Homo sapiens: one gene and its partners. The protein of the gene in region 1 purifies or fractionates together with the protein of each later gene. This does not show direct contact. Each region holds a gene or a part of one and is shown in the gene's direction. Other genes may lie near its edges. The genes, in order: MXD1, ARID4B, TFDP1 and MGA.

Region 1 (2,239 bases):
GTACGCAGTCTAATTTAATTTCATGCAGTGGGAAAATATATATGTGTGCTTCTGTAACATCCTGAAAACATAGCTTTCCATCCCCTGTTGGCTTTGAATGGTGGGCCGAGCACCCAGGTCGTCTGTATTTTGGTTTTCTTTTGCTAAGCAGAGATCTTGAATTCTTCAAGGTGCTGATAGCAACTGCTGGCTCCTTTCTGTAGTCACACACCTAATGCTAGTTTAGTGATTCAAAATGCATCACATTTTTAGGCAGGACCTAGATTTTCCCTGTCAACCTAAGATGAAAATAATTTCAGTGTTGATTCAGAACTGAACATTAAGTAGGCCCTCGTCCTGCAGTTGGCCACTTGAGTGTTTTGTTTTGTTTTTATTTTTTAAGGTGGGCATTTTCCTTTAACCTCTACTTTTTCAAAAGCAACAAAGGGGCCTCAACCTGAGTTTCCTATGGGCCTCTCTTCTGCATCCCCAAAGCGGCCAAGAGCAAATCCTGGGGGATAAGAAAAAAGTGTAAACTAGGTAGGATTGTGATGCTCAAAATAACCATCTAGCAATATCTTGGAGCTTGAGAATAGATTTTGTGGGCTTATTTCTTCTTGCCTCTTCCCCATCCTTTCAAGAGAGAACTTATTTTTGAAAAGTATCTATATATACACACACACACACACACACACATATTATTATTTAGGTTTTTATACCATACTGTATTGGCGAGAATACCACTATCATTGTCCTTTACAGTCTATTTCTTCCCCCAAGTCTTGGTCTTTTTTTATTTTCTATTTTTTCATGAACCACACAGGAGACTTTAACATCCTGGTCTTTTCTGTTTCTTCTTTGTTTCCCCAAGTTTGTCTGTCCCCCTTTGCCTTCCCTGAGTGTTGAACATCAGGTAGTAAAAGGCTAAACGCAATTTCTTGCATGTCAATCTATTCTTTTTCTATGTTTGACTCTGATGCAGTGTGTTTAGCGTGTCTAGTAGCTGGCTACTCCTATTTAAAAACTCTTCCTGGTAGAAGACAACCCAAAGACCCTTTTCGATGAGGTGGTTTCTCATTCTACATCCTCTGATCTCTATAGACTGTAGGATGCTTTGCTTTCAAAGATAACTGGGTTAGAGGGTGGGGTGTGCAATAGGTGATTTATCATGGTTTTTTTCATTATCAATATTACATGGATGATTTTCTCAGATTCTTCTGAAAGAAGAAATTGACAGGCACTGCTAGATTCAGCTATTGAATGGCTGAAGAGATTGAGTATTTGACCTTCTCTCAAAATCATAAAGTGAGAATTCATAAGGCACCCAATGTTAAGATTTATCCAGATTTTTACATTTTGATTTCTTCTCTCTGTGGGGTGGCAAGTTGAGGGAGCATTCTTCATTTTAGCTTTTACCTGACAACCAAACTTGCCTTTACCCCATCCCTAGAATTGGTGCTCTTGGAATATTGCTGTTACCATCATTTTTGGGGGGCCATCTTCCTAATGCTACACACAGCCTGACAGGGGAGCAGCAGATGAAAGGGTATGCTATTCTGTTTCCAGATGTTTCTTTATGTAAATATGACGCCAATGTAAATCCTGTGTCAAGATCATAGAGAATGGTGCTTTTTACTACAGTTAGCACATGCATTTTTAGAAACTACTACATGTTTTAGAGAATCTTTGCTGTGTATATGTAAACTGTATTGTTCAACTGTTAACAAATAATAAATTATTTCATTATTAAAGAAATTTTGGTCTTTCTGATGTTTTGTATCACAATTTACCCTTTCGTGGTTGTCCTTGCAGAACTGCGTTCATCAGATTTCTTTTTTTCTTTTAATTTAAGGGAAACTTCACTAGCTAAAAGTTTTCAGCCCTTGGAGCCTGTGATGAGGATTGAGATTGTGTGGCTCCAGTTGAGCCCATTTGTTGATCAGAATTAGCCACAGTCCCACCCTCTCCACTGCCCCATCATCCCACCTACTGGTTTCACCTGCTCGTTGACTCATTCTTGGCTGACTTGCCCTTTGTTTTGGGTGCCTCTAATGATGCAGGCTGTAAGCACTGCCAAGACTTCTGCATCTTTTGAGCAGCCTGTAGCCTGCTGGGAAAGATATGCACACAATTTAATGCAGTGTAATTAGTTGTGGAATAAAGTTGTGTGGGAAAGCTCCATGAGAAGTTAGAGGTGGTGCATTCGAGCTGGGCCCTGGAGGAGGAGTGAGTGTTTGCTGGGAAAGGAGCATTGCTGGGA
Region 2 (3,570 bases), on another chromosome or scaffold:
GGAGCTCCAAGACCTCCAGTCTGAAGGGAATAGCTCGCCAGCAGGTTTTGATGCCAGTGTGAGCTCAAGCAGTAGTAATCAGCCAGAACCAGAACATCCTGAAAAAGGTGAGAAGGAAAATGTGTATGTTGACTTATTTTAGGGTTTCCCCTCTTAAAGTTTCAATGATTTCACAGTATCTCTTGTTATAACCTGAGGCGATTAAGTGTCATATTTGTGTGAACATGGTAAAAATGGAAATTTTAAAGGTAATTTGAAAATGAATAGTGGAATGCATTTAAAAGCTTGAGAAGGCTTTAATGTGCTTTGCTTGAGCCATCCATGGCATTTTATTGTGGACCAGAACACATGCTAGAAATTGCACCCAGGCCCAAATCCAAACCTGTTTGAGAATTCATTATATGCAGTGGTTGACTATATGGCATGAGCAGCTTAAATCTATTTCTGTAACATTGTTTTTGCAATTGTAATGTGCAGTTTCTCACGAACATTTTGATTTATTGACAGACCCCTCCACCCTTAACCAAATACTGTATGTAGGGGTTTGGAGCAACCAACTGTCCAGGCACTGCTTTCCTCAGACAACCGTGTCAAACTGATTTTCAAGCCTGACTAACTTGTGTGAGTTTGTAAAGGAATTTGATGCTTTCTTAGATGCATAGCTTCCAAATTGAAGGACCAATGTGTACGTTAATAACCTACAGTAATACTTTTTTGATTTTCCGTGAAATTGTTAAAAGTGGAAATTCAAATCGGTACCTTCCCAAAGTATTAGTGCCTTTCGATGGTGCCATAGCCATACTTCTGTCATCATTTTTCTTATAAACCACTTCATTCAGGTATCTTTAAATCAGTATACTCTAGGCTGACACCTGGCTTTGGAACACACTTTTCCATCGTAAAGACAGAGCACTGGAGTATGTTTTTTATATACCGTAAAAGATTTTAGAATGCTAGCTTTAGGTTTTCAGCAAAGCTTAAAGAGATATGGTCTAGATCAAATTAGTTAATTCTATGTTTTCTCAGGAATCTTGACTTAAAACATTTCTGTTTTAAAATAAATTAAAAAAATACTTGCAATTAAATTGAAATGTTCTTTGCTTTTTTTCACATTTACAAGTATAACTACTATGATTTTATCTGTGCCATACTATCTCATGCAACTGAACTATCCAGGCATGACTAATCTTCAAAATGAAAGAATCCTTTATTTCAGAATATTAGGCTTTCAACAGTAAGATTTTACTGGCCAGGTGTGGTCACTCACACCTGTAATCCCAGCAATTTGGGAGGTCTGGGAGGTCAAGGCGGTGGATCGCTTGAGTCCAGGAGTTCAAGACCAGCCTGGACAACATGGCAAAACCCCATCTCTACCAAAAATACAAACGTCAGCCAGCTGTGGTGGCGCATGCCTGTAGTCCCAGCTACCTTGGGGGCTGATGAGGGAGAATCACTTGATCCCGGAAAGGCTGCAGTGAGCCAAGATCACGCCACTGCACTCCAGCCTGGGTGATAAAACAAGACCCTGTCTCAAAAAAAAAAAAAAAAAAAAAAGAAAAAACAAGAAAAGAAAGAAAAAAACAGGTTTTATTGTTATAGGTTTTCTTGGGGGTTTTTTTTTTGAGATGGAGTCTCGCTCTGTTGCCCAGGCTGGAGTGCAGTGGTGTGATCTGGGCTCACTGCAACCTCCGTCTCCTGGGTTCAAGTGATTCCCCTGCCTCAGCCTGCTGAGTAGCTGGGACTACAGGCGTGTGCCACCATGCCCAGCTAATTTTTTGTATTTTTAGTAGAGATGGCATTTCGCCATGTTAGCCAGGATGGTCTCTATCTCTTGACCTCATGATCTGCCTGCCTTGGCCTCCCAAAGTGCTAGGATTACAGGCATGAGCCACCGTGCCTAGCCTATTGTTGTAGTTTTTAAGAGGTTGTATCCTTATTATGTTCGTAATATCTTACAAAAGATTAAAATTAACAACAAAAAAAAAGAGGATATCTTCTCTGCTAATAGACTAAGTCAACACTGCCCTTTTGAATCTTAATCTTGACTAGGTTAATAATTGTGGAATTTGAAAGCTACTCCTAAATTTAGGGTAATTTATATCTCTTTAGAAATAATTGGTGTTTTTCTTTTTGTTGGGTTTTTTTTTTTTTTTTTTTTTTTTTTTTGAGACATAGAGTTTTGCTCTTGTTGCCCAGGCTGGAGTGCAGTGGTGCAATCTTGGTTCACTGCAACCTCCACCTCTCAGGTTCAAGAGATTCTCCTGCCTCAGCCTGCTGAGTATCTGGGATTAACGCCCGGCTAATTTTTGTATTTTGTTTAGTAGAGATGGGGTTTCGCCATGTTGGCCAGGCTGGTCTACGAACTCCTGACCTCAGGTAATCCACCTACCTTGGCCTCCCAAAGTGCTGGAATTACAGGCATGAGCCACCGCGCCCAGCCAGAAATAGGTTCTTAAGCACCTGTTTCACATGGCCACATTTTAATAAATTTACTTACTATGAATATTGGAGACTCCCCACTATATCACAAGTTAAAATTTAAGTTTTACTATTTAGATGTAGTTTTTTCCTCTTAATTTACTCTACATTGAAGGTTTTTATTTCTTAGTATCTGAACACTTTAGAATTAAACTCTCTTGGAGAGAAACCTGACAATTATGGTTCTGTGCTTCAGTATGGTCAATATCTACGTCTCCTTTATGTTTCACTTAAATTGTGATATTAAAATGACATTAGGTGGGTCACATACTTGGTGTAAAAAATAAAAAAGAAATATTAAAAATTTAAAAAGGTATTAGGAAAAGTTGTAAGTAAGATTATATGACCCATTAAAAAAAAGCTAGGAAGTTGCAGACAGTTAATTACTTGTCCTGTTTTTGATCAAGGAAGTTAGGTTTTATACACAGAAGGTTGATTTGGTGTCTGACATTGGAACTGAATGGAGATAGTACTTTATTAGTCTCTGGAGAAAAAATCTTACTTTATATAGTCTGAGAGATAACATATATGAATTAGACAGAAATATAGCAGATGTTAAGGACCAAATGAGTAGTATAGAAAAATGCTACAGTTCAGAGTAGTGATTGATCAGTGAAGCCTGGAACATCTTAGTGAAGATGTAGGACTTGGGCTAGTCCTTGAAGAAAAGGGAGACATTTATTTGTAATGTTTTGCAATAATTTCCCACCAAGAAGATGAGACGTTTTTTAGAACTACTATGTTGGATTTGTAAATGGTATGCATGTTAACCAAACAGTGCCCTGGGAGCTTAGTTATTCTTGACATAAATTGGTAAAAAAGAACCAAGTATGAATTACTGCTAAAATTTACCTCATTTATATCATTTAAAAATTATATTAATATGATTATAAGACATAATGTCATTAACATTTTAACCTGTGATTAAGTCTTAATATTTTGGTTTTATTGAATCTTAACAAATTTCAGTTTTTATTTTCAGCATATACTTTTAATTACTAGGCTTATAAACTCCCAGTACTATATTAAGGACTATTTTCAGTTTATATCTGATTTTTTTAAAGAAGGATGTGCATACTTTGTTTGCCTTTT
Region 3 (2,681 bases), on another chromosome or scaffold:
CAGTTTTTCATAACAATGGAAACAAAGCTATTACCATTTCTTACGAAATACCGATTTTCATAGTGGCATGATGAGACATTTTATACAAGTACCTCATGAAAGGACATCTAGGTAGTTCCCAGTTAGAATAAAAACTGCAGTGAGCAGCTTTACAGCTGAATTTCTCGCCATTTCTGACTTGTTTCCAAGATACAGAATTACTTCATCAAAAGGCACATTAACACATTTTTATTGTAGTGTTAATAAATACCATTAAAATGTATTAAAATATGTACATATGGTTTTATGTTAATTGAAAACATCTTTAAACATTAGGAACGTAGTGAGCTCTGGTTGGTGGTAGGTTTTTGTGGTGCTGCCAGCCCTCTGGGTTCTCAGTCCCCGCTGCCAGATTCGACCCACGCTCTGGACTCCATCCTGTCCTGCCCCGGGCTCTCTTTTTTCCTGTTGCTGGTTATGAGTGAAAGTCCCGGAGGGAGGGATCTAATGGTTTTACAGTTTGTTCCCTCTGGGGCACTGCTCCTGATGGAATGATGAGTGAGGGAGAGGCAGCGTGTGGCTCTGCTCAGCCTCCTGTTTCTGTCGTTATGGGTTCCAGGAGACAGGGCCAGAAGAGAACCAGACAGAGATGGAGTAAGTGCCAGAGCGTTGGCGTGCTGTAGTGCAGACACTCAGCCTCCCCGTTCTGTTTGTGTGACTGACAAAACCCACACCTGTGGGGCACAGCCTGTCATTTGACCACAAGCCCTGAGGCGGGGGGAGGCTGGGTGGGCCGCCTGCACTGACGGCGCCATCCGCCTCCTGCCTTGCAGTGACCTGACCAACGGTGCAGATGGGATGCTGGCCACAAGCTCCAATGGGTCTCAGTACAGCGGCTCCAGGGTGGAGACTCCGGTGTCCTACGTCGGGGAGGACGACGAGGAGGACGATGACTTCAACGAGAATGACGAGGACGACTGACGTCCTCCCCACTTCAGATTCGGCTTCAGGAAAACGTTTAGCGAAAAGAAACTTTTTTTTTAATGTGGGTTTTCTGTTTCCTTTTGGCCTACTCCCAAGAAGATATTGGTAAGCTATTGAATTTAGATATGCACCTCTGATAAGCAAGGATTGTTTCCCGTAGGATTAGGACGTGCTGTGGATGTGTGTTTTGATACCAGTGTGCTGATGCAGAGCGTTTATTTACTTGTTAGGATTTTGTGTTTTCATTTGCTATTTTTCTTTAAGTGCAGAGTTCATTTTTGCCCCTGAAAAGTTTTTGCTGAGTTTGCTGAAGAAATTGTATTTCAACCACATCCATGAAAATAAAACACCTCCTGTTGTGGATGGTGAGCCCCTGATGCCGCTTATTTGCCGTGAGTTTGGACGGCACCCCTGCTGGCGGATAGCAAGACTCTGTGGAGTTTGTTCAGTGGTACGGTGTCCAAGCAAACAGCAGAATGCAACTTTCTAAACAGCCCCAAGCAAACAGCAGAATTCAACTTTTTAAACAATAAACACCATCAACCTTATTGACTTTATTGTCCCTTAAATTATATTGACTGTTGTGATTCCATCAAGTTTGTACACTCTTTTCTCTCCCTGTTTTGCAGCAACAAATTGCGAAGTGCTTTTGTTTGTTTGTTTTCGTTTGGTTAAAGCTTATTGCCATGCTGGTGCGGCTATGGAGACTGTCTGGAAGGCTTGGAATGGTTTATTGCTTATGGTAAAATTTGCCTGATTTCTTACAGGCAGCGTTTGGAAACCTTTTATTATATAGTTGTTTACATACTTATAAGTCTATCATTTAAAGACATGTACTGAAACAAATGTATTTGTTTCATAAGCATCTTCCTGTAATCTATTATAAAATTGAAATTAAATATAGAGAATGTTTTAACAATTTTTTAACTCAAAATTTGTCAATCATTTTTAATAGTTCTTTTTTTATAAAAAGAAAAAGGAATTTAAGGACAGGCAGTAGTCTCTTTTAAAATTTATTCACAAAACCCATTAACTGCACAGTTGCTATTAGCTGCCTGTTCTAAAACGATAGTCTTTTTATTGAAACACAAATAAACTTTTCTGTAATATTTTATGGTATATAAAGAGACTTTAATTGTTTGACTTGTTTAACTTGGCACTGTTAGTTTTTATTAATAAAACGCGCATGGGCATTTTAAACAAGCTGTGTTTCTCTAATTCAGGATTATTATCTAGAAATTTGTCTGTCTTGTTGGTTTTACTTTATACTTGAGTGAGAAAGTAGGTTGTTAGGCCCAGACGCGGTGGGCCCGGGTGGTCCCTGTGGGTGCAAACCCCACCACCACATGTTGTCTGAGGCACATCCTCCGGGAGCCCACCCTGAAAAGGTGGAAGGTGGCCAAGGGTGGAGGTCTTGGTGGACACAGGGCAAAGAGGCACCTTCCTTTTCGGTGCCTGTGGTGCAGAGAAAGATAAGCCAAGTTCCTTGGCCTTTTTTCACAATGAAAATTGAGACAAAATTTAAAAGTTTGACTTTGAGAACAAGAATAAGATTGAGAGGATTCTGGGAAGATGGTGGAATAGGGAGCACCAGGAATCTGGCTGCCCAGGTAGATGTCTACCTCGCGGGCAGGATCTGCCTGATGCAGCTGTTCTGTAACTACGGAATCTACTGAAGGCTTAAAGCTTTCAAGGGAGGCTTGGTCAGCACATTGCAG
Region 4 (3,570 bases), on another chromosome or scaffold:
CCTCAGGTGGTATAAGCTTAGAAATTGACCCATAACTCTAGTAAGTGTTATGAGCTTTAATTTTAAAGTTAAATTGTGCAGAATCTGGATTTTATTTAAAAACATAAGAGGCCAGGCACATTGGCTCATACCTATAATCCCAACATTTTAGGAGGCCAAGGCAGGAGGATTGCTTGAGCCCCAGGGGTTCCAGACCAGCCTGGGCAACATAGCAAACTCCATCTCCACAAAAAAAAAAAAAAGCGTGCACCTGTGGTCCCAGCTACTTGGGAGGCTGAGCCTGGGAGTTCGAGGTGGCAGTGAGCTGTGATCCCACCACTGCACTCTAGCCTGGGTGACAGAGTGCGATGCTGTCTCAAAAGAATGAAGTTGAAGCATAATTTTATCATGAATGATCCCTTTAACAGGAATCCAGATTTAGAGAGATAACCATGTTTTTCTTTAGGCAAAAGTATTATCTCTTTAAATGTGCCTCTTGACAGTTGATACTCTATTTTTTACCATTCTAAATGTAAAGCTCCATAATGTCTGGCTGTTCTCAGCCATAAATAGTGTATTATGAAACTACAGAATTTCAGCAACTTTATAATCCAAATTAGACGTTATTTGAAGCAAGGTCAGATTCTGTGCCTTAATGACTGGGCATGGTGGCTCATGGCTGCAGTCCCAGCACTTTGGAAGGCCGAGATGGCAGGATCACTTGAGGCCAGGAGTTTGAGACTAGCTTGAGCAACAAAGCAAGACCCTGTCTCTGCAAAGAATAACATAATTAGCCAGGTGTAGTGACACATCCCTGTAGTCCCAGTTACTTGGAAGGCTGAGGCAGGAGGATCTCTTGAACCAAGGAGTTTGAGACTGCAGTGAGCTATGATTGAGCTACTGCACTGAAGGTGACAAGTGCAACCCTGCCTCTTTAAAAAAAAAAAAATATAGACTGGGCGCGGTGGCTCACGCCTGTAATCTCAGCACTTTGGGAGGCCGAGAACGGCAGATCACTTGAGGTCAGGGGTTTGAGACCAGCCTCACCAACATGGTGAAACCCTGTCTCTACCCAAAAATACAGAAATAAGCCAGGTGTGCTGGTGCACACCTGTAGTCGCAGCTACTCGGTATGCTGAAGTGGAAGAATCACTTGAACTAGGGAGGTGCGGAGGTTGTAGTCAGTCGAGGTTGTGTCATTGCACTCCAGCCTGAGCAACAAAGCAAGACTGTGTCTTAAAAAATATTATGAATACTTTTTTTTCCTACGTGTGTTAAAGGGGAATTTGGGTACCATGTTTCCATTTCCTGTTTTTCAGAAAATGCTGCTCAAATTCCAGTGGCTACTCCACAGGTCTCTCCTAACACAGTGAAACGTGCTGGACCTCGATTGTTGTTGATTCCAGTGCAGCAGGGTTCTCCTACTCTTAGACCTGTCTCAAACACACAACTTCAGGGACATCGGATGGTCTTGCAGCCTGTTAGGAGTCCAAGTGGAATGAACTTATTCAGGCACCCTAATGGGCAGATTGTCCAGCTTCTACCTTTGCATCAGCTTCGAGGCTCTAATACCCAGCCCAACTTACAGCCTGTCATGTTTCGGAACCCAGGTATAAAGTTCTTTTTTATGAACTTTTCTTTTGTTGAATCACTTGGCCATATGGTATGTTAATACACCAAGATTGTTTTTCTTCATCTCTTAAGAGTTACTTTTCCAAAAAGAAAAGCAAACATTGGAAGTCTTGATATGGGCAGTCATGATTTAAAAATTTCTCTCTTATTTTTTAAACCAGGGTCTGTGATGGGAATCCGGTTACCTGCTCCTTCCAAACCCTCTGAGACTCCGCCATCTTCCACTTCGTCCTCTGCTTTCTCTGTCATGAATCCTGTAATTCAAGCTGTTGGGTCTTCTTCAGCAGTGAATGTTATCACTCAGGCACCATCATTGCTTTCCTCTGGAGCTAGTTTTGTGTCTCAGGCTGGTACATTGACCCTGAGGATTTCTCCTCCTGAACCACAAAGCTTTGCAAGTAAAACAGGCTCTGAAACCAAAATAACTTATAGCTCAGGAGGACAGCCTGTTGGTACAGCCAGTCTTATTCCTCTCCAGTCTGGTAGTTTTGCCTTGTTACAGCTCCCAGGACAAAAGCCTGTTCCTAGCTCCATTCTTCAGCATGTTGCTTCCCTTCAGATGAAGAGAGAATCTCAGAATCCAGACCAGAAAGATGAAACAAACTCAATAAAAAGAGAGCAAGAAACGAAGAAGGTTCTACAGTCAGAAGGAGAGGCTGTAGACCCTGAGGCTAATGTAATAAAACAAAACTCAGGAGCTGCTACCTCAGAAGAAACTCTGAATGATTCCTTGGAAGATAGGGGTGATCATTTGGATGAAGAATGCCTTCCAGAAGAAGGTTGTGCAACTGTCAAACCATCTGAGCATTCCTGTATCACTGGGTCACATACAGATCAAGATTATAAAGATGTTAATGAAGAATATGGGGCTAGGAATCGTAAGAGTTCCAAAGAAAAAGTGGCTGTTCTGGAAGTTAGGACCATTTCTGAAAAAGCCAGTAATAAGACAGTCCAAAATTTAAGTAAAGTACAGCATCAAAAACTTGGTGATGTGAAGGTGGAACAGCAGAAAGGATTTGACAATCCAGAAGAAAACTCAAGTGAATTTCCAGTCACCTTTAAGGAAGAAAGTAAATTTGAATTGTCAGGAAGCAAAGTTATGGAGCAGCAATCTAATCTACAGCCAGAGGCCAAAGAGAAGGAATGTGGAGACTCTCTGGAGAAAGACAGGGAAAGATGGAGAAAACATCTGAAGGGCCCCTTAACCAGGAAATGTGTTGGAGCTTCACAGGAATGTAAGAAAGAGGCAGACGAGCAGTTAATTAAAGAAACAAAGACATGTCAGGAAAATTCAGATGTGTTTCAGCAAGAACAAGGCATCTCTGACTTACTTGGAAAAAGTGGAATTACTGAAGATGCCAGAGTTTTGAAAACTGAATGTGATTCTTGGAGTAGGATTTCTAATCCTTCAGCCTTCTCCATTGTTCCTAGGAGAGCTGCAAAAAGCAGCAGAGGGAATGGACATTTTCAGGGTCACTTACTGCTACCTGGAGAACAGATACAACCAAAGCAAGAGAAGAAGGGTGGGAGAAGCAGTGCTGACTTCACTGTTTTGGATTTGGAAGAAGATGATGAAGATGATAATGAGAAAACTGATGATTCTATTGATGAAATTGTGGATGTTGTTTCTGACTACCAGAGTGAGGAGGTTGATGATGTAGAAAAGGTGGTGAGCCCATTTTTGTTGTGACTGAAACCTAAAGGATTTAAATGATTTATTAAAGACAGAAGCTTTTTCAGAAGAGCACTAAGGCATAATACATTTAATTGGATGCCTAGGTTTAAGATTATGACTTAAATGGCTTAGTAGTTCTTTAGGCTGTGTCAATCAAGCATCATTTATTGAGCTTTTATTCTTTGAGACTTGTCTGGTTTTATGGGAAGGCTGGCTTAAATATTTGGGGGATAGGTGCTTGAGAGTCCCTACCGAGTTAGATTTTTAAAATCCCGAAACCACTA

What was found.
Region 2: the proteins of MXD1 (region 1) and ARID4B purify together in Homo sapiens (affinity purification with mass spectrometry; 3 studies listed by BioGRID and IntAct, with this or other methods). This does not show direct contact.
Region 3: the proteins of MXD1 (region 1) and TFDP1 purify together in Homo sapiens (affinity purification with mass spectrometry, with the first as the bait; one large-scale study listed by BioGRID). This does not show direct contact.
Region 4: the proteins of MXD1 (region 1) and MGA purify together in Homo sapiens (affinity purification with mass spectrometry, with the first as the bait; one large-scale study listed by BioGRID). This does not show direct contact.

Annotation. Positions count from the first base shown.
Region 1 is NC_000002.12:69,941,212-69,943,450, forward strand, and holds the end of MXD1 (max dimerization protein 1), read left to right. Parts: 3' UTR 1-1,734; downstream 1,735-2,239. UniProt on the Homo sapiens protein: Component of a transcriptional repressor complex together with MAX. In complex with MAX binds to the core DNA sequence 5'-CAC[GA]TG-3'. Antagonizes MYC transcriptional activity by competing with MYC for MAX binding.
Region 2 is NC_000001.11:235,178,122-235,181,691, reverse strand, and holds part of ARID4B (AT-rich interactive domain-containing protein 4B), read left to right. Parts: coding exon 1-107; intron 108-507; coding exon of another isoform or gene 508-599; exon of another isoform or gene 600-621; intron 622-3,570. UniProt on the Homo sapiens protein: Acts as a transcriptional repressor. May function in the assembly and/or enzymatic activity of the Sin3A corepressor complex or in mediating interactions between the complex and other regulatory complexes.
Region 3 is NC_000013.11:113,639,308-113,641,988, forward strand, and holds the end of TFDP1 (transcription factor Dp-1), read left to right. Parts: intron 1-812; coding exon 813-960; 3' UTR 961-2,166; downstream 2,167-2,681. UniProt on the Homo sapiens protein: Can stimulate E2F-dependent transcription.
Region 4 is NC_000015.10:41,747,339-41,750,908, forward strand, and holds part of MGA (MAX gene-associated protein), read left to right. Parts: intron 1-1,298; coding exon 1,299-1,589; intron 1,590-1,772; coding exon 1,773-3,277; coding exon of another isoform or gene 3,278-3,280; intron 3,281-3,570. UniProt on the Homo sapiens protein: Functions as a dual-specificity transcription factor, regulating the expression of both MAX-network and T-box family target genes. Functions as a repressor or an activator.